7 linked regions of the Homo sapiens genome follow. The protein of the gene in region 6 purifies or fractionates together with the protein of the main gene of each other region. This does not show direct contact. Each region holds a gene or a part of one and is shown on either strand. Other genes may lie near its edges.

The links.
Region 1: the proteins of PCDHA3 (region 6) and SLC12A4 purify together in Homo sapiens (affinity purification with mass spectrometry; 2 studies listed by BioGRID and IntAct, with this or other methods). This does not show direct contact.
Region 2: the proteins of PCDHA3 (region 6) and NUS1 purify together in Homo sapiens (affinity purification with mass spectrometry; 2 studies listed by BioGRID and IntAct, with this or other methods). This does not show direct contact.
Region 3: the proteins of PCDHA3 (region 6) and ABCD4 purify together in Homo sapiens (affinity purification with mass spectrometry; 2 studies listed by BioGRID and IntAct, with this or other methods). This does not show direct contact.
Region 4: the proteins of PCDHA3 (region 6) and TMEM63B purify together in Homo sapiens (affinity purification with mass spectrometry; 2 studies listed by BioGRID and IntAct, with this or other methods). This does not show direct contact.
Region 5: the proteins of PCDHA3 (region 6) and GAS6 purify together in Homo sapiens (affinity purification with mass spectrometry; 2 studies listed by BioGRID and IntAct, with this or other methods). This does not show direct contact.
Region 7: the proteins of PCDHA3 (region 6) and LONP2 purify together in Homo sapiens (co-immunoprecipitation; 2 studies listed by BioGRID and IntAct, with this or other methods). This does not show direct contact.

Annotation. Positions count from the first base shown.
Region 1 is NC_000016.10:67,951,278-67,955,588, reverse strand, and holds part of SLC12A4 (solute carrier family 12 member 4), read left to right. Parts: intron 1-815; coding exon 816-946; intron 947-3,163; coding exon 3,164-3,405; intron 3,406-3,551; coding exon 3,552-3,766; intron 3,767-4,284; coding exon 4,285-4,311. UniProt on the Homo sapiens protein: Mediates electroneutral potassium-chloride cotransport when activated by cell swelling. May contribute to cell volume homeostasis in single cells. May be involved in the regulation of basolateral Cl(-) exit in NaCl absorbing epithelia.
Region 2 is NC_000006.12:117,705,954-117,709,143, reverse strand, and holds part of NUS1 (dehydrodolichyl diphosphate synthase complex subunit NUS1), read right to left. Parts: intron 2,220-3,190; coding exon 2,129-2,219; 3' UTR 1-2,128. UniProt on the Homo sapiens protein: With DHDDS, forms the dehydrodolichyl diphosphate synthase (DDS) complex, an essential component of the dolichol monophosphate (Dol-P) biosynthetic machinery.
Region 3 is NC_000014.9:74,296,014-74,300,324, forward strand, and holds part of ABCD4 (lysosomal cobalamin transporter ABCD4), read right to left. Parts: intron 4,256-4,311; coding exon 4,137-4,255; intron 3,663-4,136; coding exon 3,535-3,662; intron 2,057-3,534; coding exon 1,917-2,056; intron 437-1,916; coding exon 320-436; intron 1-319. UniProt on the Homo sapiens protein: Lysosomal membrane protein that transports cobalamin (Vitamin B12) from the lysosomal lumen to the cytosol in an ATP-dependent manner. Targeted by LMBRD1 lysosomal chaperone from the endoplasmic reticulum to the lysosomal membrane.
Region 4 is NC_000006.12:44,153,558-44,156,601, reverse strand, and holds the end of TMEM63B (mechanosensitive cation channel TMEM63B), read right to left. Parts: intron 2,927-3,044; coding exon 2,759-2,926; exon of another isoform or gene 2,625-2,758; intron 2,530-2,624; coding exon 2,414-2,529; intron 2,238-2,413; coding exon 2,157-2,237; intron 1,911-2,156; coding exon 1,719-1,910; 3' UTR 1,083-1,718; downstream 1-1,082. UniProt on the Homo sapiens protein: Mechanosensitive cation channel with low conductance and high activation threshold. Osmosensitive cation channel preferentially activated by hypotonic stress.
Region 5 is NC_000013.11:113,853,703-113,858,013, forward strand, and holds part of GAS6 (growth arrest-specific protein 6 precursor), read right to left. Parts: intron 1-4,311. UniProt on the Homo sapiens protein: Ligand for tyrosine-protein kinase receptors AXL, TYRO3 and MER whose signaling is implicated in cell growth and survival, cell adhesion and cell migration.
Region 6 is NC_000005.10:140,982,557-140,986,867, reverse strand, and holds part of PCDHA3 (protocadherin alpha-3 isoform 1 precursor), read right to left. Parts: coding exon 4,305-4,311; intron 1-4,304. Other genes in the region: PCDHAC2 (protocadherin alpha-C2 isoform 1 precursor), read right to left, coding at 4,305-4,311; PCDHAC1 (protocadherin alpha-C1 isoform 1 precursor), read right to left, coding at 4,305-4,311; PCDHA13 (protocadherin alpha-13 isoform 1 precursor), read right to left, coding at 4,305-4,311; PCDHA12 (protocadherin alpha-12 isoform 1 precursor), read right to left, coding at 4,305-4,311; PCDHA11 (protocadherin alpha-11 isoform 1 precursor), read right to left, coding at 4,305-4,311; PCDHA10 (protocadherin alpha-10 isoform 1 precursor), read right to left, coding at 4,305-4,311; PCDHA9 (protocadherin alpha-9 isoform 1 precursor), read right to left, coding at 4,305-4,311; PCDHA8 (protocadherin alpha-8 isoform 1 precursor), read right to left, coding at 4,305-4,311; PCDHA7 (protocadherin alpha-7 isoform 1 precursor), read right to left, coding at 4,305-4,311; PCDHA6 (protocadherin alpha-6 isoform 1 precursor), read right to left, coding at 4,305-4,311; and 4 more. UniProt on the Homo sapiens protein: Potential calcium-dependent cell-adhesion protein. May be involved in the establishment and maintenance of specific neuronal connections in the brain.
Region 7 is NC_000016.10:48,267,839-48,272,149, reverse strand, and holds part of LONP2 (lon protease homolog 2, peroxisomal), read right to left. Parts: intron 2,135-4,311; coding exon 1,876-2,134; intron 1-1,875. UniProt on the Homo sapiens protein: ATP-dependent serine protease that mediates the selective degradation of misfolded and unassembled polypeptides in the peroxisomal matrix.

The sequences.
Region 1 (4,311 bases), on a different chromosome or scaffold from region 6:
AATGTATATTTTTATCATTTCCTTTTTTTAGTAGAGACGGGGTCTCGCCATGTTGCCCAGACTGGTCTGGAACTCCTGAGCTCAAGCAATCCACTCACCCCAGCCTCCCAAAATGCTGGGCTTACAGGCATGAGCCACCACGCCCAGCCAAGATTGACTCTTTGAAAGAATTTCTTGATCCCTGTTCCCAGATTTTCACCAGAGACATTGTCTCAGCAGCAGATACAACCAGCAACATGAGATGACTCTTGTCCCCCTGTGCTTGTCACCCTGGGGCCTGGTCATGACTCTCTGAGTCTTTTAAGGGTGTTAGACTTTGATAGAAGCACAGATTCAGGGCAGGGAGCCGTGGACACTCACCTGGTGGCAGGCACTGTGCGGGGCCTTAGGGCCAAAAGGCTGGATGAGACAGTCCCTCCTCTGGTCTGGAGGAGTCAGACTAACAAAGGCACAGGCCTCAGGAGGGTGAGGTGGGCTGAGATAGGACACACCCAGCCAGAGGAGGCTGTGGGCTGTGCACAGGGCATTGGAGGATGGTGGCCAGTCAGCCACTGCTGCAGACTAGAGCTGCTCCCGCAAAGCAGTTATTTCCACGGGCCGTGCTGGACATTCGAGTCAGATGGGGATAGGATCGAATGTCAGCCTAGATGCTTACCCACCGTGCAGCCCTGGGTAGGTCTCCCAGCCCCTCTACTCATCCACAAACAGGAAAAGCAGTCCCTGTCCCTCTGGGTGGTTGTGCAGGCTTGTCACAGGGAGACCCCTTGAAGAAGAACCAGCCTTGACCTGTGCACACTTTCATTTCTCTGCTGTAGCTGGGGGCTCCTATTTCATGATCTCTCGTTCACTGGGGCCAGAATTTGGAGGTGCTGTGGGCCTGTGCTTCTACCTGGGAACAACATTCGCAGCAGCCATGTACATCCTGGGGGCCATCGAGATCTTGCTGGTGAGTCAGGCTGAGCCCTGGCCAACTCTGGCCATGTCCAAACAGTCCCTTTGGACTCCAAACAGAAGGCTCAGGCTGTTCATCCCCACATGTCTGGCCAAGGCCTGGGTATTATAAAGTAGGAAGCCTCTTCGAGAGACAAAGACCTTTACTCAGGCTGGTCTTCCTTTCACCTCCATGCCAGTTTGGGCCAGGCAAGGCAGAGGCCTGGCTGCCTTCACCTCGGCCCTGGATGTTCCATCCACCTGGGCACCATTGCAGCCATGGCAAGGGTTCCAGGAACTGTTGTATTCAGCTCAGTGACAGATCTTGGTGGTGATGTAGGCTTCCTTCTGGGCTTGTGTGAGCTCTGGCCAGCTCTGTGTCCTCCGGGGCTCTGTGCCAGGGCACTTCAGATCCACCTTCTCCTTGTCCTTCAATCAGGGTAAGCAGCCACAGAACCCTGCTGGAGGTCGGCGCTCCCTCCACGAGCCCCATGGGAGCTCTGTCAGCCTCAGCTTCTCATTCCCCAGTGAACTGCCGTACCAGTGGGAGAAGAGGCAAGGAGCTGCGGGAGGCATGGGGTGACAGGTGCCCGCCCCTGGGGATCCAGAGGGTAGGAGATACCTGGAGGGACTGCCTGGCTGTTCTTGTCTCCAGGTCCTCTACCTGCAGCAGGACCCTGCACCTGAATCTTCTGATTTGGGGGGGCTTTGGCTTGTTTTCATTTCTCATATCCCTTCTACATTCATTATGTGGGATTTGTCCCTTCTCCTGTTTATCTATTCAGCCATGTCATTATATCTGTATGGACTTCTGGATATTTACTTTATTCTTTGGGTTGTAATCCAATACTATCATTATTTATTTTCTTGCTCAAACTGTTCCACTTTGGCTATTTAACGATTCAGGTTGGCATCTATGTTTGGATCCTTTTTGTTTGCTTGTTTTTAAGTAACAGCTTTATTAACATATAATTTACATACCATGCAATTCCCATACCAATTTATATACCATTGAAAGTGTACAATTCAATGTTTTATAGTATATTCACAGAGTTGCGCAGTCAATTCTAGAACATTTTCATCATCCCAAGAACCCCCATTAGCAGTCACTCTCCATTCCCCGCCAGCCCTGGCAACCAGGAATCTGCTTTCTGCCTTGGGATTTGCCTATTCTGGGCATCTCATATAAACAGAATCATATAATATGTGACCTTTTGTGACTGGCTTCTTTTAGGTACTCTTATTTTTTATTTTTATTTATTTATTTGTTTTGAGATGCAGTCTCACTCTGTCGCCCAAGCTGGAGTGCAGTGGCATGATCACAGCTCACTGCAATTTCCGCCTCCTGGGTTCAAGTGATTCTCCTGCCTCAGCCTCCCGAGTAGCTGGGATTACAGGCTCATGCCACCACGCCCAGCTAATTTTTTGTATTTTAGTAGAGATGAGGTTTCACCAAGTTGCCTGGGGTTGTCTCGAACTCTTGAGCTCAGGCAGTCGGCCTCCCAGAGTGCTGGGATTATAGGCATGAGCCATTGCGCCCGGCCTATTCATTTATTTTTTTGAGACAAGGTCTCACTCTGTCACCCAGACTGGAGTGCCGTGGTGTGGTCTCTACTCACTGCAACCACCACCTCCGAGACTGAAGTGATTCTCCTGCCTCAGCCTCCCGAGTAGCTGGGATTACAGGCGTGTGCCACTACTACCAGTTTTTGCACCACTAATTTTTGTATTTTTAGTAGAGATGAGGTTTCACCATGTTGGCCAGGCTGGTCTCAAACTCCTGACCTCAAGTGATCCACCGCCTCAGCCTCCCAAAGTGCTGGGATTACAGGCGTGAGCCACGGCGCTGACCTATTTTTTATTTTTTTTTGAGACGGAGTCCCCCTCTGTCACCCAGGCTGGAGTGCAGTGGTGCGATCTCTGCTCACTGCAACCTCTGCTTCCTGGATTCAGGCGATCCTCCTGCCTCAGCCTCCAGTTGCTGGGATTACAGGCACGTGCCACCACGCCCGGCTAATTTTTAGTAGAGATGGCGTTTCCCCATGTTGGCCAGGCTAGTCATGATCTCCTGACCTCAAGTGATCCCCCACCTCAGCCTCCCAAAGTGCTGGGATTACAGGCGTGAGCCACTGCGCCCGGCCTCTTTTAGGTACTCGTAAAAAGAAAACCAAAACGACAAGTTTCACTTTCCAAATAAGAAATAAAACCCTCCTTATCCATCTTCTTGTTTCAGACCTACATTGCCCCACCAGCTGCCATTTTTTACCCATCGGGTGCTCATGACACGTCGAATGCCACTTTGAACAATATGCGTGTGTATGGGACCATTTTCCTGACCTTCATGACCCTGGTGGTGTTTGTGGGGGTCAAGTATGTGAACAAATTTGCCTCGCTCTTCCTGGCCTGTGTGATCATCTCCATCCTCTCCATCTATGCTGGGGGCATAAAGTCTATATTTGACCCTCCCGTGTTTCCGTAAGTAACCCAGGAATTTATCTGGGCATTGCATGGACATCCCTCCCATGTAGCCAGCCTTTGATGCCCCAGATCCCAGAGACTGCAGGGTGGGCACAGGCAGGGGCTTTGACCTGAGCAGGTGCCGGTGCTTCTGTCCCTCACAGGGTATGCATGCTGGGCAACAGGACCCTGTCCCGGGACCAGTTTGACATCTGTGCCAAGACAGCTGTAGTGGACAATGAGACAGTGGCCACCCAGCTATGGAGTTTCTTCTGCCACAGCCCCAACCTTACGACCGACTCCTGTGACCCCTACTTCATGCTCAACAATGTGACCGAGATCCCTGGCATCCCCGGGGCAGCTGCTGGTGTGCTCCAGGGTGGGTCCTCCCTCCCGTCGTCTTGCTCTTGAGCCCACAGGCTGAGCAGGGGCACAGAGCACAGAGCTGTCCTTGTGTGGCCAGCTTGGGAACGGGGGCAGGACTGGCCGCCTTCCCAGCCCCCCAGTGTCCTCCCAGCCTGGCTCCTGGCAGCCGAGTTTGGAGTGAGTGGAGCCTGTCTGGCCAGCGTCCAAGGCCTGCAGCAGCCTGTCTTCCCCAGCCACCAGCCCCTGACACTGCCTGGGGATGTTCCCACAGGATCCATAAAGGCCTCTGTGGAAGGCGGGCAGTGGCGGGCTCTGGGTGACGGTGGTTCAGCCACCTTTGTCTGTCGACTTCTAGCTGGGCAGCTCCTTCTCTGTGGTCAGGGTAGCCCTGTGGCTGACGCTGCAGTCATTGGGCTGAAGCTGTTCCCTGAGTCCCCAAAGTTGCCCTGCATCTGCGCCTCTGGCTAGGCTGCCCCAAACTACCTGGGGTAGTGGGGGGCAGCTGTGGTGGTGACACAGCTACCCCTGCAGAAAACCTGTGGAGCGCCTACCTGGAGA
Region 2 (3,190 bases), on a different chromosome or scaffold from region 6:
TGGAGATTGTACTAGCAGGTGAACTCATAAAGAGAAGGTTCTGGAATGACTACATCTGAAATCAGAATCCTAGTAGTTTGTAGTTTGCCTCTTCCTAGAACTTCAAGAGACTCAAATCATAGGCTACAGATGTACTTTCAAGTATATACTTATGAATGGAAGGAGAAAATAAAAGCACGAAAATGCAAATATTAAACCTTTACTGGCTTGGGCTATATTCCAGTAGGTAATTTATTTGACTAACTTAACTTTAACAACGATTAAATCCCTTCATTTTAATCAGGTCCATTAAATTTCATTCATTAAAGCTATACATACTCCAGAATGTTTATAAGACATTTATACCTATCATGTTTACAAAAGGCATAAATTCAGTCTTCAGCTGCACTACAAATGCCTCAATATAATATAATCACAGTATAAGGAATCAGAAATTCTCTGGTTAGATATGCTGTAGCTTCACACAAAACTCTCAGTAATAAATTAAAACAAAAAAAAAAAGTCGTACAACGTATAATGGATTATGCAGTGCAAAGTAATGTCACTGGACCAAAATTTAGTTTAATCATTTTTATTTCAAGTGTATTTAAAAAATCATAAATGGGGTTTCATAATCCAAAGTTGAAACATTTATTCTTCATAGCTTCAGAATTTAACAACCAATTGTAGACCATGCTTTCCAAATCCAGTCTTCTTTGCTATTTTTCAAAACTTCTGAGATCTAGTATTAAACTGCTCCATTCTAAATGTATAGTTTTAGATAAGTATTGTACACTTGTTGATAAGGGTTTTCTGAAAGCAGTCTATCAAATATAAAGAATGGTTTCTATCTAAGAATCAGCAGTGAGGGAAGAAATATTAAACACCTATCAAGAAATCAATTATTCATTTTAAAAATAACAGAACCAGTGCTGCTCTCTGTCATAAAAGAGAACATGTAAAATTTATTTTTATAGACTTTGGTAATATTTTATTCCCCCACAGAGGCCTTCAATCCTACTTAAAGATATTTTACACACAGTAACCATCAGGATTTACTGAGTAAAAATCTCAGGTATTAACCATGCCCCTAAAATGTGCTATTCCAAAGAGGAACAGGTTACTTTTGAGGAAAAAAGCTGCCTTGGTAACTTCCCTCAAATGTTTATTTTAAATAAAAATGGTTGATGGAAATATTTTTTAAAAGAACTTTGGGTATAATATGGCATACTGCCCATCAAACAAAAAAGGAAATAAAACTTTCTTTCCATTTATAATAAGTTTTCCACCTTTACTATCAAGATTACAACTTATTGACCTTTTATGCTTGCTTGGTTTTTTTGACTGCCTAATCCAATGTTTAAATTTTTAAGTCTGCATTTCAATGTAGTAGGAGTTATTTTTCAAATAATCTTCAGAACCCAGAATACAGAGCAACTCTCAGAATACCAGAGCAACACTCTCAAGTCATACTTTTGAACCCAGAATACCAGAATACCAGACTTCAGAACCCAGAATACCAGAGCAACACTCTCAAGTCATACTTTTGACTACAATTAAGAGATGAAAATGGACGGATATCTGAAGATAGGTATTCCCTCTGCTCTGAAGGTGAGCAAGATTTTAACATGTGAGCAACACAGAACTCCACTCCTCTGGAGCTCCTTTCAACTCAGAATGCTTCAGTTCAGTAAGTCAATATATTATTCTTAAAAATTAAAGTTTGGTCACTAAGAAGGACTGAACAAAAATTATTCCCCTCCCGCCAAACACAACCAGAACAGTTCTAATCAGGCCCTCTTCTCCCCACAAAAATAGGGAAGTAGCTGGGCTGAAGACTTTAAGTGTGACATTTCAGTTCCTAAAACATCACTGCTATTTGCTCAAAGTTGTAGGTCTATGTATTTCCTTCTCCAATACGTCCCCATTTATAAGTTTATTTCCATACATACAAACGTGCACATGTGTGCACGTGCACACGCACACACACACACTCACTCTCAAGTAAGACACTTTTTTGTGTTTGTTGATAAATTATGAGGATTATGAACTAGGTGTGTACAGGGTTTCATAGGTGCTTTGTAAACATCAGAGTCACTTGGTTCCTTTCCTCCACAAGCCTCAAATCAAATTATGCAACCAATGACCACTACTTTCCCAGACGCTGTTCACAGGCTGCATATTGACGAAGGGCAGAGAAAAAGTCCTCATAACTGATGTTTAGGTGGGAAGGCAAAGAGCTGAAAAGAAAACACGGGGGGAGAAAAGCAATTAGATATACACTGTAATGTAGGGGGGAACCAGAAGATAAGGACCAAAAAGAAGTTAAGAATAGAATACACCAAATTATCCTCCACCAGACAGCACCATGACAGGCACGGAAAATGTCTTAATCATAATATGTAGACTGAAAGGGTGGGGCCCTGACAGAACTGACTGGGAAATAGCAGAGAGCCTCTGAGGCACCGAGGGGTAGTGGCACTCACTGTTTATTGACGAGTGTTCATTGAAGATAGCTATTCCCTCTGCTCTGAGGGTAAATTATAAGCAGAATATGCCAAACAATTCTACTAAGATTGTTCAGCTCATTGTGGACAATGAGATGACAAGGACACACAATGTCATCATCAACTAAAAAATTAATATGCCTCTTTTTCCACAAGAAAAGCAACTAGTAATGAGAGATTCATAACTTGTTAAAGCGTAAGCTCAGATTAATGCAAAGCTAGAGATCTATGTATAAAGGATCTCATTTAAATCCATTAAAGAATTTCTCCTTGGTCAGAGTAAAGCCAATATTACTTAGTTTAGGAAAGCCATGCTTAATGTTGGGCAGAGCCACACAGCATCCAAACATGATGAAATATTGTAGCCATGTTGTGAGCAACCTAGAAATCAACACTTACCTCCACCATTTCCAATTACTCAAGGGCAATTACAGTGTGAAAATAAGCACTTTAAAGATAGACTGAATACACAATCAGAGGGTTCCCTTTTATGTATTAGAAGTAACTATTAATTTTAAATAAGTAACATGAAAAACATCTGTAATTTATGTAGCTTTATAATGTGGGAATTCCAAATAGTATCAGGGTCAAACACCTGGTCAGAATAGAAGAGTCACAGTCAGAGTCCTACAGTCACATGCACCACAAAAAAAGAGTGAACAAACCTACCTTGAAAGGACTCCTGCCTGTCTTTAGCTATACTT
Region 3 (4,311 bases), on a different chromosome or scaffold from region 6:
TGTGGGGTGCCACCTATCCCCACATGCCTCAGCCCTGACTCCTGTTCCCTCTCAGGTAGCCCCTGTCCAATCTGAGTGGCCCAATGGGCCCTCTGCTCCTATGTGGGGGCATCTGGTATGAGCTCTCAGAGCCAGGATATCTGTGACACTGCAACACAGGGCCAAAGGAAGGGCAGGGGCCTGAGCACGTGGGATGGGTGAGCACGTGGTAAGGTACGGTGGGAGAGAGGGGAAATAAGCTTCTCTTGGACCTTGACCTGGGAGAGCTGACTGAGGGCCCTCTGGGGAAACACCAGGCTGGGGAGGAGGGAGGCTTCACCTTTGGAAGCACTGGTAAGTGTAGTAGACGAGGGTGAACGGGGAGATGATGAGCTTGCTGGCCATGCTGCTGAGCTGCCGGCAGAATCGCTCCACGTCCTGGCTGATGCGCTGGTCCCTGGAGCCAATGACACAGAGTAGCTGGACCCAGGGAGATGGGCCCAAAGGTAGAGAGAACAAGAAACTTTCACATCACCTCTGCTCTTGACCTTGCCTCACAGTGCTGTGAACACTGACCCTATGGGAAGAGGGAACCAGACAAGGCTGGTTTCCTAGGGGCAACTAAATCCCAGGGCCTTTAAACAGGGTTCTAGAGAGTTGCATCTTACGGTGCCTTAGTTAATCCCCTGAAAAAGTGGGAACTGAAAGGTCCAGTACCCAGGGGCCTGAGCCAGCTCTGAGCAGAGCCAAAGAAAAACTTGAAGGTAGATGAGCTGTTTTGGATGATCAAGAAGACTATCCCCTTTATCTCAATCCTCCCAAATTTCTCTTATATAAGCCCTAGCCTGGCCCCTTTAGTTATCTGGCTGTGAAAGCTCCAGGCTGTGAGGCACACCTGTAGTCCCAGCTACTCAGGGGGCAGAGGCAGGATGGAAGCCATAGCCATCAGAAAGAGGCCTAGAAGTTAGGCAGCAGCAGCAGCCTCCCACGCATCTTTGCACCAAAGCTAAGCTTGAGCTGAGAGGTACCCCAACCAACAAAGTGCTTGCTAGGAAGGTGGTGAGTGAGGGGATGGGTGTGAAGGAGACCCCCTATGTCTCATCTCACCACTAGGGCCATACTGATTCCTATTCCCAATGAGTGACGTGACCTTGGGCAAGTCACTTGCAATCTCTGGGCTTCAGCTTCCTCATCTGTAAAATAACAATAGCTAACTTACACTGAAACACTTGCTATGTGTCAAGCACTGTACATGTGCATTACATGAATGATATTTCATCCTCACTACACCCTTTGAGATAGGAACTATTATTGTCCTCATTTTACAGAAGGGGAACCTGGGGCTTGGTGACTTTAAGAGTTATAACCTGAGTGGTGATAGAATGGAGATGTGAATCCTAGACTGAGTCCTGGATAGTGGTAATTTTTTTTACTGATGAAAATCTAAGAGCTGGTTTTTCTAGCAAGGACATTTTCTTTAGAACCCTCTAAAGAAACCCCTTAGTCTTCTTACTGGAAGACTAAGATATAAAGTATGAAAAGGACAAAAGAAAGCTGCTCCTAACATTTTTCTTTTTTTTAAGAGATGGGGGTTTCTGCTATGTTGCCCAGGCTAGAGTACAGTGGCTATTCCCAAGTGTGCTCACGGTGCACTACTCCTGGGCTCAAGTGATCCTCCTGCCTCAGCCTCCTGAGTTGTTGGGACTACAGGTGCATGCCACTGCACCTGGCAGGCTTCTTCTTTTTAGCTGCCTATTCACAGCCCTGCAGCTTCTCCAGGAGTCCTCTGCAGGGCACCCTCCCCCATGACTCTGGGCAGCAGCATTTGAAAACGACTGCAGATGATCTCCTTGGTGTCTGCCACCAGCAGTCTCCAGGGCTAGGCCAGAAGGAAAGGACCACACAGAGTGTAGAAAGGACTGAGTTGGGGCGCCTACGGGTTATCGATGTCATCCCGCAGCACGTTGAGGGTGTAGTACGCACGGCCCCGGAAGTAGAGGCGGTGAAGGTGCTCAGTGAGGTCCTTCCTCCAGCTCACATACAGCAGGTTGCAGGTGAACTGATCAAAGCTCTTCAGCTGTGCAGTGGGGGAAGCAAGGGGAAGGGAGAGATGGCTTCCTGAAAATCTCAGCTCAAAGCTCAAGGCTCGCAAGAGCCTCCGCTGACCCATCCCAGCCCACTCTGACTCTGATTACTCCGTCCACTCAGCACTTTTCTTTTTTAAATCATCGAGTCATGGGACTTTCCCTTCCTCACTCACTCACGTGTTCATTCCTTCACCAAATTTTTTTTCTCTGAGATGGAGTTTTACTCTTGTTGCCCAGGCTGGAGTGCAATGGCGCGATCTTGGCTCACCACAACCTCCGCCTCCCAGTTTCAAGCGATTCTCCTGCCTCAGCCTCCCGAGTAGCTGGGATTACAGGCATGCACCACCACGCCCAGCTAATTTTGTATTTTTAGTAGAGACGGGGTTTCTCCATCTTGGTCAGGCTGGTCTGGAACTCCCGACCTCAGGTGATCCGCCCGCCTCGGCCTCTCAAAGTGCTGGGATTACAGGCGTGAGCCACTGTACCCAGCCTCCTTCACCAAATATTAAAGGGCTTACCAGAGGCAAGACCCTCTTTCTACACTGTCTTATTTTGAGAGTAGATGAGCTTCTGAAGATTGGAGACCATATTGTCGATTCCATTTATGTTCTTACTCCTTTGTCCCCCAAGCTTGGGACAGAGATTTGTATGCATAGGTGCTTACTGACCGAAGACCCAACAAAAGTGGCCATGGTACGATGAGCAGTGGCTTCCCCAAGAAAACAGGTGGCACAGCCTGGCAGACAGCATTAGGCTTGAGTTCTGGTACAGCCCTGAGTCTCATCATTTACCATTTCCAGGGCACCTATGTGCTAAGCACTAGGGACATTATGAGCTCACAGTTTAGCCAGAAAACAATTACAAGCGTGTGAGGAGTGTTACAGCGAGGTAAACTCAAGGAATTCGTTAAGTACAGAAAAAGGGCAGAGTTTGGTGGAGGAGACACAAAGGAGAAAGCTGAGAAAGACTTGAAAGAGGTGACAACGGAGGGATGACGAAGAGTGAGCAGGTGGTAGCCCCCCTACTGAATGAGGGGTAGGGGAGGAGGCCATTCTGCAAGAAAGCACTGTTCAAAGGCTGGGAGGTGTGACATGGTGCCAGGGTGAGTCACAGCCTCGGTCCCGCAGAGGAGGAGCAGCAGCTCTGGCTGCTGAGCCGTTTTAATGAGCTGCCGGAAATAAGAGTTCTAGGAAGGAAAGGGGCAATGATCAGTTCTGCTAAATGCTGAATTAAACCAGAACCTGTGGCCTGGGCCCAGGAGTGGAAACATCTGAGGAATCAGTCCCACGTGGGCCAATAGCAAGATCAACGTGCTTAATAAAGGCAACTATCCCTTTAGTTCCCAGAAAAGGGAGGAAACACACCCCCACAGCTTGCTTCCTGCTTCCTGGAGGCTAAGTTCCACTAGGCATTACGGTCACACTGGACTGGAGAGGACGAGAGACACAGAGAGAGGGAAAGATCTTACCGTGGAGTTCAGAACAATGAGCATGACAGCCAGGAATGTCAGAGTCTTAAACCCTTCCAAGTCTTTGTTTCCCAGGACCCCATAGTACTGACTGGGGATCAAGCCAACCTGGTAGATCACAAATTGCTCTGAAAGGAGGGAGAGGAGTAAGAAATCAGTGATGAGGGGTTAAAAAGAAGGGAGGCTTCTTCCTGAGTCCCTGCCTCATCAGCACCCCAAAGAGATGAAAAGGGGCCGGGCGCGGTGGCTCACGCCTGTAATCCCAGCACTTTGGGAGGCTGAGGCGGGTGTATCACCTGAGGTCATGAGTTCGAGATCAGCCTGGCCAAGATGGTGAAACCCTGTCTTTACTGAAAAATACAAAGTTTAGTCGGGCGTGGTGGTGGGTGCTTGTAATCCCAGCTACTCAGGAGGCGAAGGCAGGAGAATCACTTGAACCAGGGAGGCAGAGGTTGCAGTGAGCTGAGATTATGTCACTGCACTCCAGCCTGGGCAACAAGAGAGAAACTCTGTCTCAAAAAAAAAAAAAAAAAAAAAAAAGATGGAAAGGGACCCCAAACCAGAGCTCCCCTCCCTCCTCTAGTCTGGGCTCACTCACTCACCCAGTAGGGTCAGGCACAAAAGGGTCAGGAACATCAAGGCATTTTGTGATGACCAAGAAGGAAACAAAACCTTCAGTATCTGCAGGAACCGCTGGAGAAATTGCAGATCTAACCTGGGCCTGAAGAGAAGGTGGGGAGGCAGAGAAAAGCCCAAGACAATAATTAAGCCTTAGGG
Region 4 (3,044 bases), on a different chromosome or scaffold from region 6:
TGGCGCCTGGGCAATCTTTATCAGGCTTGCTGTGTTTGCTGTTCCTGCTGTTGGTGGTTCCTGTTGACTTTTGTGGAACCTGGTTCTCCTCCTCCTCTGAGGTCTCTTTTCTTCCCTCTAAGAGTTCCTTTTTCTTCCTTTTCTTCAGGGTTGCAAAGTGATTTAGTGACAGAATAAGGACTGGAATGCAGGCCTCCTACAGTACATGCAGTACATGCTGTGTGTGCATGTGTGTGGGTGTGCACCACATGGCTCTGTGGGCCTTTGCAGGGTGGGCTACAGCAGTCACAGGACCTTTTTTCGAGGTGATTTTTTTTTGTTTTTTTTTGAGACAGGGTCTTGCCCTGTCGCCCAGGCTGGAGTGCAGTGGCATGATCTCAGCTCACTGCAGCCTCCACCTCCCAGGTTCAAGTGATTCTCATGCCTCAGCCTCCCAAGTAGCTGGGATTACAGGGGTGCACCACCATGCCCAGCTAATTTCTGTATTTTTTGTAGAGATGGGGTTTCATCATGTTGGCCAGGCTGGTCTCGAACTCCTGAACTCAAGTGATCCACCCACCTTGGCCTCCCAAAGTACTGGGATTACAGGCGTGAGCCACCGCGCCTGGCGAGAAGGTGAATTTGAGCTGGGTCTTGGAGAATGGGTAAGATTTGACTGGAGGGTGGGAGGGGGCTTCTCATTGAGGAGATCAGGCCCTCCTGGGGAAGGGACAGATGGGCTGGCGCCAGGCTTACTTTGAGGTGCTCAGAAGGGCCTTCGTCCTGGCCCAGCATGGACCCTGTGGCTTTGCACGACCTTTTCTCCCTGAATCTCTGTCCCATGTGTGTTGCTCAGGGACTCAGGGGAATGATCAGAGTGGGCGAGGCTGGTATGGTGGCCACCTGGGCACAGGGGCCCTTCCTGCCTCTGAGATATCCCTTAAGTCTCTCCCCAGCCCCACTCTCTCCTCTCAGTGACACAGAAATGAGACTCTGAACAAGTCCCTTGCCCAGCGTCATGCAGGGACCTCAAAGAGGCCCTCCAGATAGGAGGGTGGGGACCCGGCCCAGGTGCCCAGGGCAGCACAAGTCAGACACCTGCCTCAGAGCTTTTCTTTGTTTTTATTTTAAAGGAAAAAAACAAAAAAGAACAAAAAAACCAAAAAAAAAACAGTGCAAAAACCCATTTTCCAGTGTCAGCCTTGCCCACCCCCACCCCCAGGCCACCCCAGCTGTGAGCCTGACTCTTCCTCCCACTCAGCACCCCCTCCCCCCTCATGCATCCCCTAGGGGCTGGAGGCTCCACTTCCCTGGAGGGCCAGATCCCAGGAGGAACTGTGGGGTGGAAAAAACGGAGGGGGGGGAACAGCCCCAGATCCACCTGCCCCCCAGGTCTCCAGCCACCGGCACCAGGTGCACCAGGTACTCCTCTTGGCTCTCATTAACCCTCTCCTGGTCATGCTACTAGCTGGGGAGGGGTGGGGGGTACTGATCTGGGGGAACTCCCTCTGCACCCCTCTTTGCCCCGGGGCCGGCTCGGGGCTCTCCTCACTGAGGTTGGGGGGCTCCCTCCCTCCATCATGGGGGAGAGCAGTGAAACCCCCAAGTTTAAATACCTTAATGAAAGCAGGGGCTGGGGAGGAAGGGGCTTTAGATCTAATAAATTATTAGCGTTTTAGTGTCCGTGGGAGTGGGGGTGGGGTGGGGCAGGATGTGGCCTCCAGGGCCCCTCCCTCCCCTTACTGGTGAATCTCATTCTCTATGAGGCTGTCCTCGCAAGACTGGAAGTCTGTGTCCGTGAGGGCGTCGGGTGGCATCAGCAACTCCTCATCTTGGGATGAGGATGATGGGGGCTCATCCCCTGAGCTCCCAGGAGCCCCATCCCCATCCCCGTCCACCTCTGAGTCCTGCAGCACCTGAGCGATGTATTTCTGAAGGAGGAGAGGAAATGGGGGCAAGGTGAACAGCTGCCCCTCATGGATTGCGGGAACACCAGGGCATGTAGGACAGCAGAGTGGGCAGGGCCCTGGGGGGCGGGGGCAGCCCTCCAGGGAGACCAGCTCTCTTCCCGCCCCCATGGGGTCTGGCACAGGTTCCCCTTTCTGCAGGACTAAGGGAACACTGGGCTTTGAGGCTGAGTCTGTCAGAGGCCCCTCCCAACCCTTGAGGGCACTCACCGCAGATTTGGGGACAGCAGCAGCAGTGGGGGGCCGTCCATTGCTTCTGGGGTCCACAGTATCTGTCTCCGTGTGCTCAATCTTGAGGGGCCCAGAATGAGTCAGGAAGTGGGGGCATGTCCTCAGCCCTGATCATGACCCCACGCCCGCTTGGCCCTGTTGGCGCTGCCCTCAGCCCTCGCCAGCCCTGTGGCCCTCTGCATTCCTCCCCTTGAGCTCCTGCCCGCAGCCATCCGCCTGCCACCCTTGCCCCACACCTTGTAGTTGTGGGCACTGAGGTATTTGAAGTGTCCAAAGCAGACGTGGCAGAGACAGATGACGATGGTGATGACCAGGACCACAAATGTGAACATAGACGTGGGAGCTAGGAACCCTGGTGTTGGGGGGCAAAGAATGGGGTTGCTATCTCCTGTGGGCCTCCCCACCCCAGCTTCTGATACCCTCTGAATGCAGTCCTCACTCTCCCAGGTGCTACAGACTGGCCCCAGCCTCTCCCAGGCCCCTTGCCTGCCACCCCCAGCCATGCGGCTTCTCCTGTGGCCTGCTCTGGCTGGAATCCACTCTGCTCGCCACCCCCCGTTCCCTGGGTAGGGATCCCTCACCCGTGCGCATGGTGGAAAAGAAGAGCAGCCAGAAGAGGCAGAGGATGGGCGCGGCCACCACCTGGTTCACAGCCCCCGAGTGGATCTTCTTGTCCAGCTTGGCCGGCAGGTAGGCGTAGTAGAGATTGTACCTGTCTACCAGGTGCTTCAGCAGCATGTACATGAGCCCTAAGGGAAGCCACATGGGCCCTGACCTCGGAACCAGTGCTGCCGAACCTTTTGTGTGTCTGTCACAGGTTGTTCTGGTCCTGAGAGTGCTGAAGGGTTGGCCCCCTCCTCCTGCCCG
Region 5 (4,311 bases), on a different chromosome or scaffold from region 6:
GCTGTCTTCCAAGAACTTGACTTCTATGAGAAAACTCAGAGTAACGCCCACAGGAACTGCCCTTGGGGAGCCTTCCTTTCTCAGCATTTGCAGACTCTCTGAAGAGCCGCCGTCTTACAGACCCTTGGCCTGGCAGCCCGGCTCTATTCATGTTCTTCTAGCTTGGGAAGTGCAAAATCCTTTCCTTCCTTCCGAATTCGTTTCCTAAGTCTTCACACCCGCAGCAGCCTGCTCTAGCCCTGAGCAAAGTGGAAGTGCTGATCCCACTGCCCACAGGAGGCAGTGCATGGCCCCCAGCCCAGAGGACCCCAGGCTGACCTGGAGGGAGACAGGCCCCAGGAAAGCACAGTCAGTATACCCGGCATGCCCATCTGCACCCAGGGTCAGCGGTGACAGGTGCCTCTGCCCTCCTCCAAGCTCACACCCAGGTGCGCCCTCCCTTGCTGGGAGCCCTCTTCCTGGGAGCTCATCCTGGTGTGACTGCCCGGTCAGATGTGGATGCTGGGAAAGGCCTCTGTAGCTGACTGCACAGCTGTGAGCACCCTCCATGCCTCACAGCACCGACGTGGTGCCTGACCCGGTGGGTAACCAAGCTCTTCTCACAGAAGCCCCGAGACACACATCAGTGTCTCTCATGGGCTTCATGGCAAACGAGACAGAGGAGCTCGAGTGGCTTCCAGCAGCTGCACGGCGGTAACGCCGAGACTCGCCCCGCATGGCAGTGACGCCGAGACTCCCCCTGCATGGAAGTCATGCTGAGACTCAACCCTGCACGGCAGTAATGCTGAGACTCACTCTGCCCGTCTCTGCCCCAAACACAGAGCATGCTCCCGACAGCCCCCAGCAGGGTGTCCTGTGGTGCACAACATTCAGCATGTGAGCGTGGACGCAGGGAAGGAACAGAGCTGCAGCCCCCACAGGCCCTGAGCCAGCACAGGCTCTCATCGAGGAAGGCCCGCTGTCTTTCAGGGCAAGCCCCACCGAGGGCTGCCTGCTTTGAAGTGCAGAGCAGTGACTGTCTCTGGCCATTTGGCAGCATCCTTGCGGGCCCTGAGAGAAGCCAGTCAGGAAGCCACACAGCTGTTGGATGGGAGGGATGCTGGCCACAAGAAACACTACAAGGAGAGAGGCCCAGGACACGCCACTGTTTGCACGTGGTGGGCAGAAGGGAGCCTGGGAAAGTGCTGACTAAAGACAGGCCAGTCTGTGGGGGAGCAGAGGGCGGGGAGGAGGAAGGAAGAGGGTTCCTCCGTGCCCACCCCAGCCCCGGTGGCATCGCTGTCCTGGGAGCAGCCTCGTGCCCGCAACAGCTGCCGTGGAGAGGAAGTGGGATGTCTCACTGCAAATGCTTTGGGAAAAACAAGACAGTGTACTTTGTGATCATATAAAACAGCAAAATAAAATAGTCGTGGGCACAGGGCCAGTGATTCTGCAGTTAGAGCCGTGTGGACTCGGTCCCCATCTCCGGTGAGGGCGTCTCCTGCACACGGCACCCATGCTTCAGGTCGCACACACGTGCCTTGGACCCAAGTTCACCTTTGGAGGTGTCAATCCCCCCAAGAAGATGTGCTAACCTTGGAGTTTGGGGCCTAGGCTTCCATCAGAGTCTTCCCCACAGAAAGCGAACTGGGACTGGTCCCTCAATAAGCTACCGGCCTCTGTTCACAGCAGCACAGGATGAGGATGCCTGGGTCTTGCCAGCCACCACGTTCTATGATCCCAGGACAAACACGATTGCAAAGTTCATGTGTGTTCCCGGCTTACAAATGGGGAGGTTTATTTACGGCCTCTCCGGATCCACGGGGAGCTGCTCCATGGGACGCTGGACAGCTCAGTTCCCTTGAAAGGATGGCTGCACCATCGAGCATGACTCAACCCAAAGATCCAACGCGCAGGGGCCTGGCAGGGACAGCTGTGCTTGGGACGCCGGTGTGCCACTGCCGCTTCTGCGCCGGGAGTCACGCCCCGGCCTCTCCCACTGGGCTCCCAGCCTGAGCTCTGCCCAGCTGGTGTAAGGACAGTAAAGGCAACCAGATGCCCTGACTGCGACCACCACCAATAGTCGCCAAGAGTGCACGCAAGCAGAAATCACAGATGCCCTGGCAGCTGCCTGAGGGACAGGCTTCTCCTCCAGCTTTATCCAAGTTGAGCTGGTCTTCGGCCAGACGACCAAGCTCAGGCCCCAAATTCACCTGGGTTGCTCTGAGGACTGGTGAGACTTAAAGGTCACTTGGACTCCTCCAGTGGCCGGGACACATGTCTCTCTAGTGGACTGGTTGCCTTCCGTGTTGTGAGGACCGGCCAGGCCTGCAGGTTGGTGCCTTCCTCTGGCCTCACTGAGCAGCAACACTCAAGTTCAAACACAAAACCACCATTTATGGTGGAGCCATGGGCTCTGTAGCCCAGCATGACGCACCTGGCAGACCATGTTCACGAGACTAATGCTCCGAGCCACTGACACACACCCAGCTCCCCGCAGCCGCCCTGTGCTTTATGCGCCCACACCAGCACCACTCAGCCCTCACATGGGTGCCAGTATGCTCACAGTCGCCTGCACACAGAGGAGCACACAGTGGGGCCGGGGGTGCTGCCGCGTCCTGCTCTCCCCCAGTCCCAGCGAGCACAGGAGTTAATGACAGAGTGTGGGGCTCAAATGCCCAGGACACACTGTAGCCCTCCACAGCCTCTCAGGGCCTCAGTTTCCACATCTGTAAAATGGCTCAGTGACAGCTGTTACACAGTTGTCATGAGGATGTAACAACTTCACACATGGAGACCCCGAGAACAGCACTCTCAGGAGGACCCGTGCACGATTCATCTTTCAGACTAACAGACGAGCTGAGCGACGGACGAGCTAAGTGATGGATCTGAGAACGGGAGTGATCGGGAAGTGAACAGTTTCATCATCTGCTGCTGCTATTCAATTGTCAGGGTTGAAATAAACGGAAAGCCAGCCTGCCCGTAAACACTGTCATGTATTTCCCACAAGTGTAAAAAGGAAGTGAACAGTATCTTCCAGGTGTGGTGGAGACAGTCCAGACACACCCAAAGCCCACTGCGCCTCCCTGAGAGCTCCCGCGTCCGGGCTGCCCTCATTTGGAGTGGGCAGGAATGCCACACCGCAGCCCTCTCTGCTTCTGCAGGGACGGTCAACTTAGCAATTCAGAAAAGAAACAATGTTGACTCAGAGAGTGGCCTTACTGTACTGTGGACAGTTGGTCCTGGATGGGAGCCAGTCCCAGCCTGGCCGAACGTTTGGCCTTTTTATGCTGAGAATCCAGCCACTGCAGTGACCGGCCCAGGCTCTCTGAGGGCTGGCTGGGTCAAGCTGTGTGTTTTCCATGGAGCCCCAAGTTCCAAGGGGAGGTAGTCACAAAACAGGGTCTAGCAGGTTTGTGGACAGATGTGGAGAAAATGTATTTTCTTATCATAGGCACTAACACTGGAAGGAAAAAAATTTCACCTATAATTTGAAAACGGAGCCCCAGAAAATTAGTAGAACATTAACAAGGCCCAATGCACTTTACTATTTCTTTTGAATATTATACTTTTAATCAACACCCGTCAGTCAGAGCAGAGAGTGCCTCTGTCAGAGTGAAAGGCAAAACTGATACTGTTCTTAACTTATTCCACTTCCAGCTCCCCTTTAAAATTTATTTTAAAACTTTTAAAATGAACCTTTCACTTGGCCAGGGTCAAAATTTACAAGGCGTACACACCAGGTTTGCAGTGAAATCACTGGAATATAAAAACCATGGAAGAGTCCAGAGCATTTCCAACATCAAATACGAAACCCTTAAACAAGCAGCTTTGCATTGGAGAAACAGCTCTCAGTTTTAACCTTAGAAAACAGGGGAAAATGAAGCATGAGGAAACCTGGATGCCTGTCAATCGCTCTGGGGTAAAGCCATAACCTGGGAAGTGCTCAGCATGCCCCAGCTAGCAAGCTTAACGCCCCTTTACTCAGAATCTCAAGAAAGAAGCCATAAGCACTTGCTTCCTAAAAGAGTGTTTTGTTCCTAAATAACAAAGGGAGACGTTCAGCGTTTCTCAAAACGTCTTTAATTAGAGTTTTCCACAGATGTGAAGCTCTCCGGCTCGGGTGAGGGTGTCGTGTGCAGGGCCTGGCACTCGGCTGCCTCTGAGAAAGCCCCGGAGGAGCCTGGCACCAAGTGCCTGCAGACGCCCGGGTGAAAACAAGCATCTGCACAGGTGCGGGCACAGGAGAGGGCTGCGGAGCCAGCACGGAAGACGGCCCTCAGAGGAGGCCGGGCCGGGGTCCACCTGCAGGCCTCAGGATGGGCCCAGGAG
Region 6 (4,311 bases):
GTTTCCGGGTATTGTTGGTGTTGCTGCCCCTTTGAGAACCATTGTCTAAACCAAAGTTCTCTAACTAAGACTCACTGCCTTAGTGGCTTCCGCTACCTAATTAATCTTTCACTGTTTAGTCCCAGATCCCCTGGGGTCTTGAGAAGCTATAATGTTATCTTCTGCAGTGCTGTGTGTTTTGAAACTTTCTGAACTCTTCTGAAAACTGTGAGCATCTCCCACTCTAAAACTAATGTACTGTTGCCTTAGGTAAGGCCTGAGATCCCTTGAAATGTAGAAAGAGGAGCTGGAAAAACCAATAACAGATAACAAAGCAGCCTGGCCCACTGAAGCCAGGCCAGTTCCCTCACAGGCAGGGGCAGTCCTTTTATAACCTGGGATTGCCCTAGGAACTGATCACAAGAGGGCATTCATTAAAACCTCTTCAGGGCATTAGTACTCATGAAGTTAAAAAGAGCTGTAACATGAGCGACTGGCCCTTTAATGTCCCTCCCCCCAAAACGCATTCCTCCATCTGAAGAAGAGGCTGCAACTGTATTCCCTGCATTCCTGATTTAGCTAATTTTCTCTCTCTGCTCAGTCTCAAGGGAAGCTGAAAGGAAATAAGAAAGCCTGTGGTCCGGGTCTGCTCACACAGAGGGGAGGCTAGAGAAAGGGGCCAGTAATCAGGATTAACCAATTTAATGCCTGACTTGTTTATCCTGCAGAAAACATTACTTGGTGATGCCCTTGTTGATCCTTTCAGAGTGTGGCATCTTTATCTTAGGCTTTTGCAGACTGTGAAAATAAATGAACAGTTTCTTTAAAAAGCAAAAGAATTCATCAGTGAGGCCAGGCGCAGTGGCTCACGCCTGTAATCCCAGCACTTTGGGAGGCTGAGGTGGGCGGATCACGAGGTCAGGAGATTGAGACCATCCTGGCTAACACAGTGAAACCCCGGCTCTACTAAAAATACAAAAAATTAGACGGGAGTGGTGGCGGGCGCCTGTAGTCCCAGCTACTCAGGAGGCTGAGGCAGGAGAGTGGCATGAACCCGGGAGGCAGAGCTTGTTGTGAGCTGAGATCGTGCCACTGCACTCCAGCCTGGGCGACAGAGCGAGACTGTCTCAAAAAAAAAAAAAAAAAAAAGGAATTCATCAGTGAAGGAAAAATAACTTTAAGAAACACATATGAACGAGGATTAGCGTAAGGCAGGCCCCACTTCCTTTATTCAGCCATTGCAAGTGTTGGGATGAGAAGAGCAATACACAGCTGGTTCACGGAAAGGGCTCTGAAGCAAGTATAAGGAGGCTTAGGCACCAGAAAGAAGCCTTTTGGAAGCAACTGCATCTTCACCGTGAAGCTTTAAGGGCAACAGAATCAATGAAAGGCAGGCTCTATTTGAGTCTGGAAACAACCAAATTTTTTGGAGCATTTCCCTTTTCTTCAGGCAGCAACTAATAAATCCTCCTCACTCCATTTCCAGGGGAACAGTTGGGGTGACTGGATTATATAGACCCAGATAACCTCAGAGGGTCTATATCTGGGCCTGCAAATGAGAACTACTGAATTCTGGCCACCAGGCTATCAGCCAACACTATATCATAGATTGCAGAAAAGTAGTCCAGAAAGAAAAAAGAGTAAGAAGATTAGGCCAGGCGCGGTGGCTCACGCCTGTAATCCCAACACTTTGGGAGACCGAGGCAGGCGGATTACGAGGTCAGGAGATTGAGACAATCCTGGCTAACACGGTGAAACCCCGTCTTTACTAAAAACACAAAAAATTAGCCAGGCTTGGTGGCACACGCCTGTAGTCTCAGCTACTCAGGAGGCTGAGGCAGGAGAATCACTTGAACCCAGGAGGCAGAGGTTGCTGTGAGCCGATATCGTGCCACTGGACTCCAGCCTGGGGGACAGAGCGAGACTCTGTCTCAAAAAAAAAAGATTAGACATTTATTAACTATATGTCAAGCACTATGCTCAGTTCTTTTTTTCTCCTTTAGTTCTCATGGTAACTCAATAAAATAGGTGTTATTATTATTACTACACCCAATTTACAGAAAGGGTAATTAAGAAAATATGAATTCAGGCAGTTTGTCTATGCTCACCCAGCAAGTAAGCTTGGGATTAGAATTCAACTCAAATCTGACTCTAAATCATAATCTTAATCTTTATGCCATATTCCCTCCAAGCAGTGCAGAACATATATTGAGTCCTAAAAACCTAAAAGTACCAGAAGGACAGGGAGAAGGCAGAGAATCCCTTTAACTTTACACCACTGATGCAGAGGTATGTATTGAAAAGTATGATTAGGTTGCCATGGAGTAGTTGGAAGATGTAAGCTCTATCCAGCACAGTCCATGAAGACTGTGACTCATGCATCAGCAGCCAGGCACAGTTCTGGATAAAATGGGTTATACAAGAGGGGCTGGGACAGTAAGAAAGGGAACAAGGGAGATCCCCTTCTCTATCTCTGTAAAAAAGATAGGTTCTCAACATTTTTTGAATCTGAAAGAGGGACTTGGCCAGATGTATGAAATATCAATACATGGTTCCTATTCCACATTTGCCTAGGAATACACACCAACCAGCATCACCAATGGGAGGGAGAATGTATTCAAAGTTAGTTTGTGGCTTACCAGGTCGACCTACAATGCCTCCATAAGAGCAAGAAAAACTCTGAAATAAAGGCAAGGTAGAAAGTCATGATTTCACGTGGCTTCTTTGGGAAGTTCTCACCTTCCCAGATGCCTCCACATCCTGCAACACTTGGCAGTCTAAAACCACTTCCTCCTCCATCATTTCTTCACTCCATCGTTGGCACTGAGGGTACAGATTTGTCAATGAACTATTTTATGTTTTTCCCCTTGCAATCTGGCAATATTAGCTCTCTAATGAATTGCTTCAACTCGTATATTTTTTGGACAAATGTGACTTTTAGTTGAATTGTGCAACATCCATAAATAGCAAATCCTGGCTGATTAGAATCAACGAATGCCCTTAAAGTTGCCAGTAAAAATGGGCCCTTAGCTGCATGTTACTTAATAATTTGAAAGGCATCTGATTATTTTTGGGAAAAAACCTTTTACACACACATTCTGTCATCTGTTATGTATGTAGATATGTATTTGAATTTGAATGGATTATTGCAAGCCAGCCATGTTATGAATATAAGTGCTAGATATACTTGGATTTGAAACTAAACACATCTGGGTTTGAATCCTACCCTCTGCCACTTACAAGCTACGTGAACTTGGGTACATTTCTTAATCTCTCTGCCTCTCCAGTTTCTCATATGTAGAATAGATGTAATAAATCCCTTGCAAGCTTGACTTAAGGAATAAATGAGACCACACATACAATGTACTTGGCACAGTGTCTAGGCATATTATGGCTTAATAATTAGTAACTACTATTATCATCATGATGTTCTATTAATAGAGGATTAGAGTAGACACAATTTGTGGTCTCTACCAACACTTAATCTTCCCTTTCTGAAAACTGCCACAGCGATGGGCCTCCAAAGCCATATTTCTATTACATGACCCTGCTTTAGTGATAGGGCAAGAATAAGGATACCAAGCAAATGTGAGTTTAAGCAATTTTCCTATACTCACCCAGCCATTAGGTTTTTTACACAACTTAGCAGGTTCTCTTTCCTGAAAGTTTGGATTAGGAAATAGTCCCTATTATCCCTCTAAACTAAGAAATTGTGAGGCGGTCATGTTTGGCAACATGCATGCCAAGGCACTAAAAGTCAGTCTGCAGAATGTTGTTGATGTGCAGAGAGAAGCAGATTGACTTTGACTTGAACTCAAAACAATGCCTTGGTTCCGATAATTTTCCACTTCCATGAGAAACCATCTTCCTTCCTTCCTTCCTTTTTCTTTCTTTCCTTCTTTTTCTCTTTCTTTCCTTACTACTTTGGGTGGGTTTCCATAGTCTTCAACCAAAAGATCTTTGTTAACAGTGTCATCTCTGTGCATAAGGCCACCAGATCTTCTCTGCATGGCTTGGATGACCTAAGCATTTGAAAGGTACCTGATTTAAACAAACAAACAAACCCCAAAAACTTCATACACACACACACACATGCACACATGCGTGCACACACACTTTCCTTGTTATCCTTTTTCAACTCCTGAAGAGCATTAGGTATAAAATCAAAATAATCATATATGTAAGGAAATCATGTATGTATGGAAAAAAGGGAATAACAAAAATATAAAAGAAAAAGAGCCATCAACATTCCTGATCTTACAAAAGTAGGTCATCTGATCACTTTCCAGAAACCAAGAAAGAATGGAGAGACCCCAGCTCTTTACCTGGTGT
Region 7 (4,311 bases), on a different chromosome or scaffold from region 6:
CTCACTGTGTGTCAGGTATTGAATAAGTGCTTTCCAAGCCTTATCAAATAATCAATACCAATGTGAAAAGAAATAAGAACAAATTACCTACATGTCACGTGCTTATGATGTCAATTTCACATAGCATTAATTCCACGAACTCACTCTCTAAATGCCATCAAATACTTACTCTGTAGCTAAAATTAGAAGATTTAGGCCCTAGACGCAGCTTCTTTGAGTTTGGTCCAAGAGAAATGCCAATTCCTTTACGAAAGCAAACTATAGCCTCTAGTGGTACATGCAAGAATAAGAAGTCTAGGCAACAAAAATATCTTTTGAAATTGCCAGAAGAAATCACCCAAATCAATTCTCTACTCTGATCTGCACGCCTCATTGTTTATTTACTAAAATCTTGTGATGAGTCTTTTTTAAAATTTATTATTATTATTTTTTTAGAGATGGGGTGTCACCAAGTTGCCCAGGCTGTTCTTGAACTCCTGAGCTCAAGCAACTGCCTGCCTTGGCCTCCCAAAGTGCTGGGATTACAGGCATGAGCTACTACACAAGGCCAGTAATGATACTTTTTAAATGCGTAAGAATTTTAAGTGAGCAAATAAAAGAGAATAAAAATAACCATTTCTTATAGAAAAGTTTCTGAAACAGTTTCCCATCCCTGTCTATGGATAGGGATCCCTTTGAATAAGGCACATAGAAAACAAGATATTAAAAAAGCATCATATTCTTTTATAAGCAGTTCATGGTTCCTACATTTAAACATGTTCTTTAACACATACACTATAGGTATGTTTTCTCACAACTTACAATTGCTATGAATCCCTTAAACCACGAAATGTAAATTCATGCTTTCCCAAGGCAATTTCCATCAGATCAACAAAGAGACCAGTGAGAACAATGAATGCAACATGCAAATCTGATTCTAATAATGTCAGATTAATCAGAAACAGTTTTGTTGTTGTTTGTTTGTTTGTTTGTTTGAGATAATGTCTCTGTCTCCAGGCTGGCGTGCAGTGGGACAATCATGGCTTACTGCAGCCTGGACCTTCCCAGGCCTAAATGATTCTCCCATCTCAGCCTCCTGAGTAGCTGGGACCACAGGTGCATGCCACTGTGCCTGCATAATTTTTTAATTTTTGTGGAGACAAAAATTAAAATTTAAAATTAAAAAATTTAAATATAAATTTTGTAGAGACAAAAGTGTTTCCCTATGTTGCCCCGGCTGGTCTCAAACTGTTAGGCTCAAACAATCCACCCACCTCAGCCTCCCAAAGTGTTAGGATTACAGGCATGAGCCACTGTGCCCAGCCTAGAGGGACAGTTCTTACAGTTTATTGTTTTTTTATAGAAAGTGAGTCCAAAATGCAAGAATAAGCCTTAATAATTATGCTAACATTTATCCTTATTACTCATATTCATAATACAAACCAACCTTCATAAGAGGAAGTTTAGACTGCAATCAGAACAAGTTTGTTATCAAAGACTTCTCACCTCCTCCTATTGGCCCTCCCTATTGCAGTTACTTTTTTTAACTCTGAGAGTTAGGGATCATTATTTATGGCATGCTACTGGGTTGAAAAGAGTGTAAAGACATAATAATATCCAATCATAAATAACTTATAATTACATTCAAATGAGATTCCAGGAAAGTTGAGGCACAGAGTAGTATCCACTGTCATACAAATCAAGGTTAGTTTGGGTTTATCATTACGCTTAGAGGCTCTAGGCTAGCTGATACTTCTTGTAAATGTCCTTTTCATTCAAGGTACCACACATAGCCCTTTAAGGAAAATAGATGTATGCTATGCCTAAGCTTTTAGGGAGCTCTAGTCAATTAAAAAGAAAGAGGAATCAGAGATTAAACTGAGAGAAGTGTTCTACCTGTGTCCTCGAATGTCAGACTGATCACATACTCCTCCAAGTGCAATCCTGTGGAACTCTCGACCTAGAGTCTTGGCCACTGATCTTCCCACACTTGTTTTACCAACTCCAGGAGGGCCAACAAAGCATAGGATTGGGCCCTTCAGGTTATTTTTGAGCTGTCTGACAGCCAAGTATTCCAGTACTCTTTTCTTCAATTTTTCCATGGCGTAATGGTCATTATCCAGAAGAATCCGGGCTGCCCTAATGTCCAGGCGGTCTGTCAAATAACCCAACAGAAATAATTAGAACACATAAAATTTTTAAGTTAAAGAACTCCTTTCAAGCATGACGAGGGCAAAATATTTTTTTTGAAAATAGATGTGATAAGAACAGACTTGGATCTTTCTAGATGAGGATTCTAGGAGATCTGCATTTGGTTTGGTTTCTCTGCTTAAGACTTAGTGTCCCCAGAGATAGTAGGCACTACACAATTAAAAACTCAATGTTCATATCATTTTATTTGGAATGATTTTCTAGTTATGCATTACTTCTTAATTTCTACATATTGTATGTGTGCTGGCATTTGTTTTTTAAAAAAAAGGGTGATTTTTTTCCTTATTTCAGTAGTAACATATGTTCATTCCAGAAAACCTGATAACACTAACAGAAAAGAAGAAAACAGTTACCCATAATCTCATGCCCCCAAGAGATCACCACTACCTTTACTTCAGTATGTGTAATTCCAGGCTGTGTGCGTGCATTTACAAACCTATTTTTCAAAATGGGATTTTATGGGGCCTTTAAGTTTTGTAAAATGTTTTTTTCACTTAATATATGACAGACAACTTTCACTGTCACACATATATTTATCAGTAACATTCTATGGTTACTTAATGTTCCATTACTAAATTATCTATATTCATTTAACTAATTCCCTACTGCTGAGCATTCAAGTTGTTTACACATCTTTACATTTATAAAAGATGCTTCAACTGTGCATCACTGGAACTAAATCTTCCCATATATCTGCAATGATTTCTTTCAGCTTATCTTCTATGAACAGAAGTGCTGGGTCAAAAAAAAAAAAAAAAACAGATGATGTAAAGAATTGCCTAATTGCCACACAGAAAGTTGTATCAAAGTCTCACCAGAAGTGTATGAGTTAGGCTTTGTTTCTAGAGCCAAGCTTTCAACAGGTTTACTAATAAGATTTAGCATTTAAAATACTCAGATTAAACACCAGGTAACAGAAGCCAAAATGAATTCACTAGCTGGGTGGCTGCCAGGGTATAATACACAGCCACCTGATCATGCTGGCAGTGAAAGAAGAAGATGGGAGAGAGAAATACACAGAAATCTTTTAATTAATTAATACATATCTTTTAATTAATTATTTAGAATTTGCTAAGGATATTTCATAAAGGAAAAAAATGGCCTGAGATGGTAATTTGGTTCCCAAGCTAGTCCCCCAAAAAACCTAGCTAAGCAGTAAACTATATAATTTAATTATAGTACTATTGATTTTAGTCAGAGTCCTAGGTGAGTGAAGTAGGAGAAGAACAACTAAAATTTCTTCCCCCTTTCCTGGCTCCAGAACCCAACCAATGAATATATGAAGAAGTGAAAGATAGAGAGTTTCTCAATTGTTTCACAGTGCTAGCCCTGACACTAAAACCTACCACAGTAAACATAAAAGAAAACCTCAGACAAATCTTTTTATATAGCTGTAAATATTAAAATGCTAGTAAATCAAATCTATAAAGAATAATATACTAAGTCCCAGTGGGATTTATTTTAGTTATGCAAACATGGTTCAGTGTTAGGTCATCAATGTCATCATGTTCAAGAAGAGTAAGTTTCCATCAAAATATCATCTTGTACCTAAAAAGGTACTTGTTATAATGCGTTATCCATTCATGATTAACACATTCAGTAAGGTAAGAATAAAAGTCAAGATAATTTAGAAAAGACTGAAAACACTGTGAAGAAATTTCTTGCAAGAAATATGCCAAGTAAAGACAATTTTAAAAGTTCTTTCAATCTTTTAAGTAAAGGTGATTTCCATGCTGTATAAATTATTTTCTATCTTTTCTATACAGGATATATTTTTCTAATTATTCTCTTTAATGATTCAGAAAGCATGCTTCCTGTTTTGAATAACATGTGATTACATGTAAAAAATTTTTCAAATTTCAATATAAATTTCCTTATTTATAATTAGAAGATTGAAATGGTATCTACTGACTCCTCTAAGCTGGGAAAATCTGCAAACATATTTCCTACAACTCTTTCCTCTCTGCTTTCCTTTTTGTTTTCGGTTACTATCTGAGATCTCTACTTGGTAGGTAAACTTCTCTTTCAGAAATTATGAATGGGGGGCCAGGCTCGGTGGCTCACACCTGTAATCCCAACACTTTGGGAGGCCGAGGTGGGAGGATCACTTGAGGTCAGGAG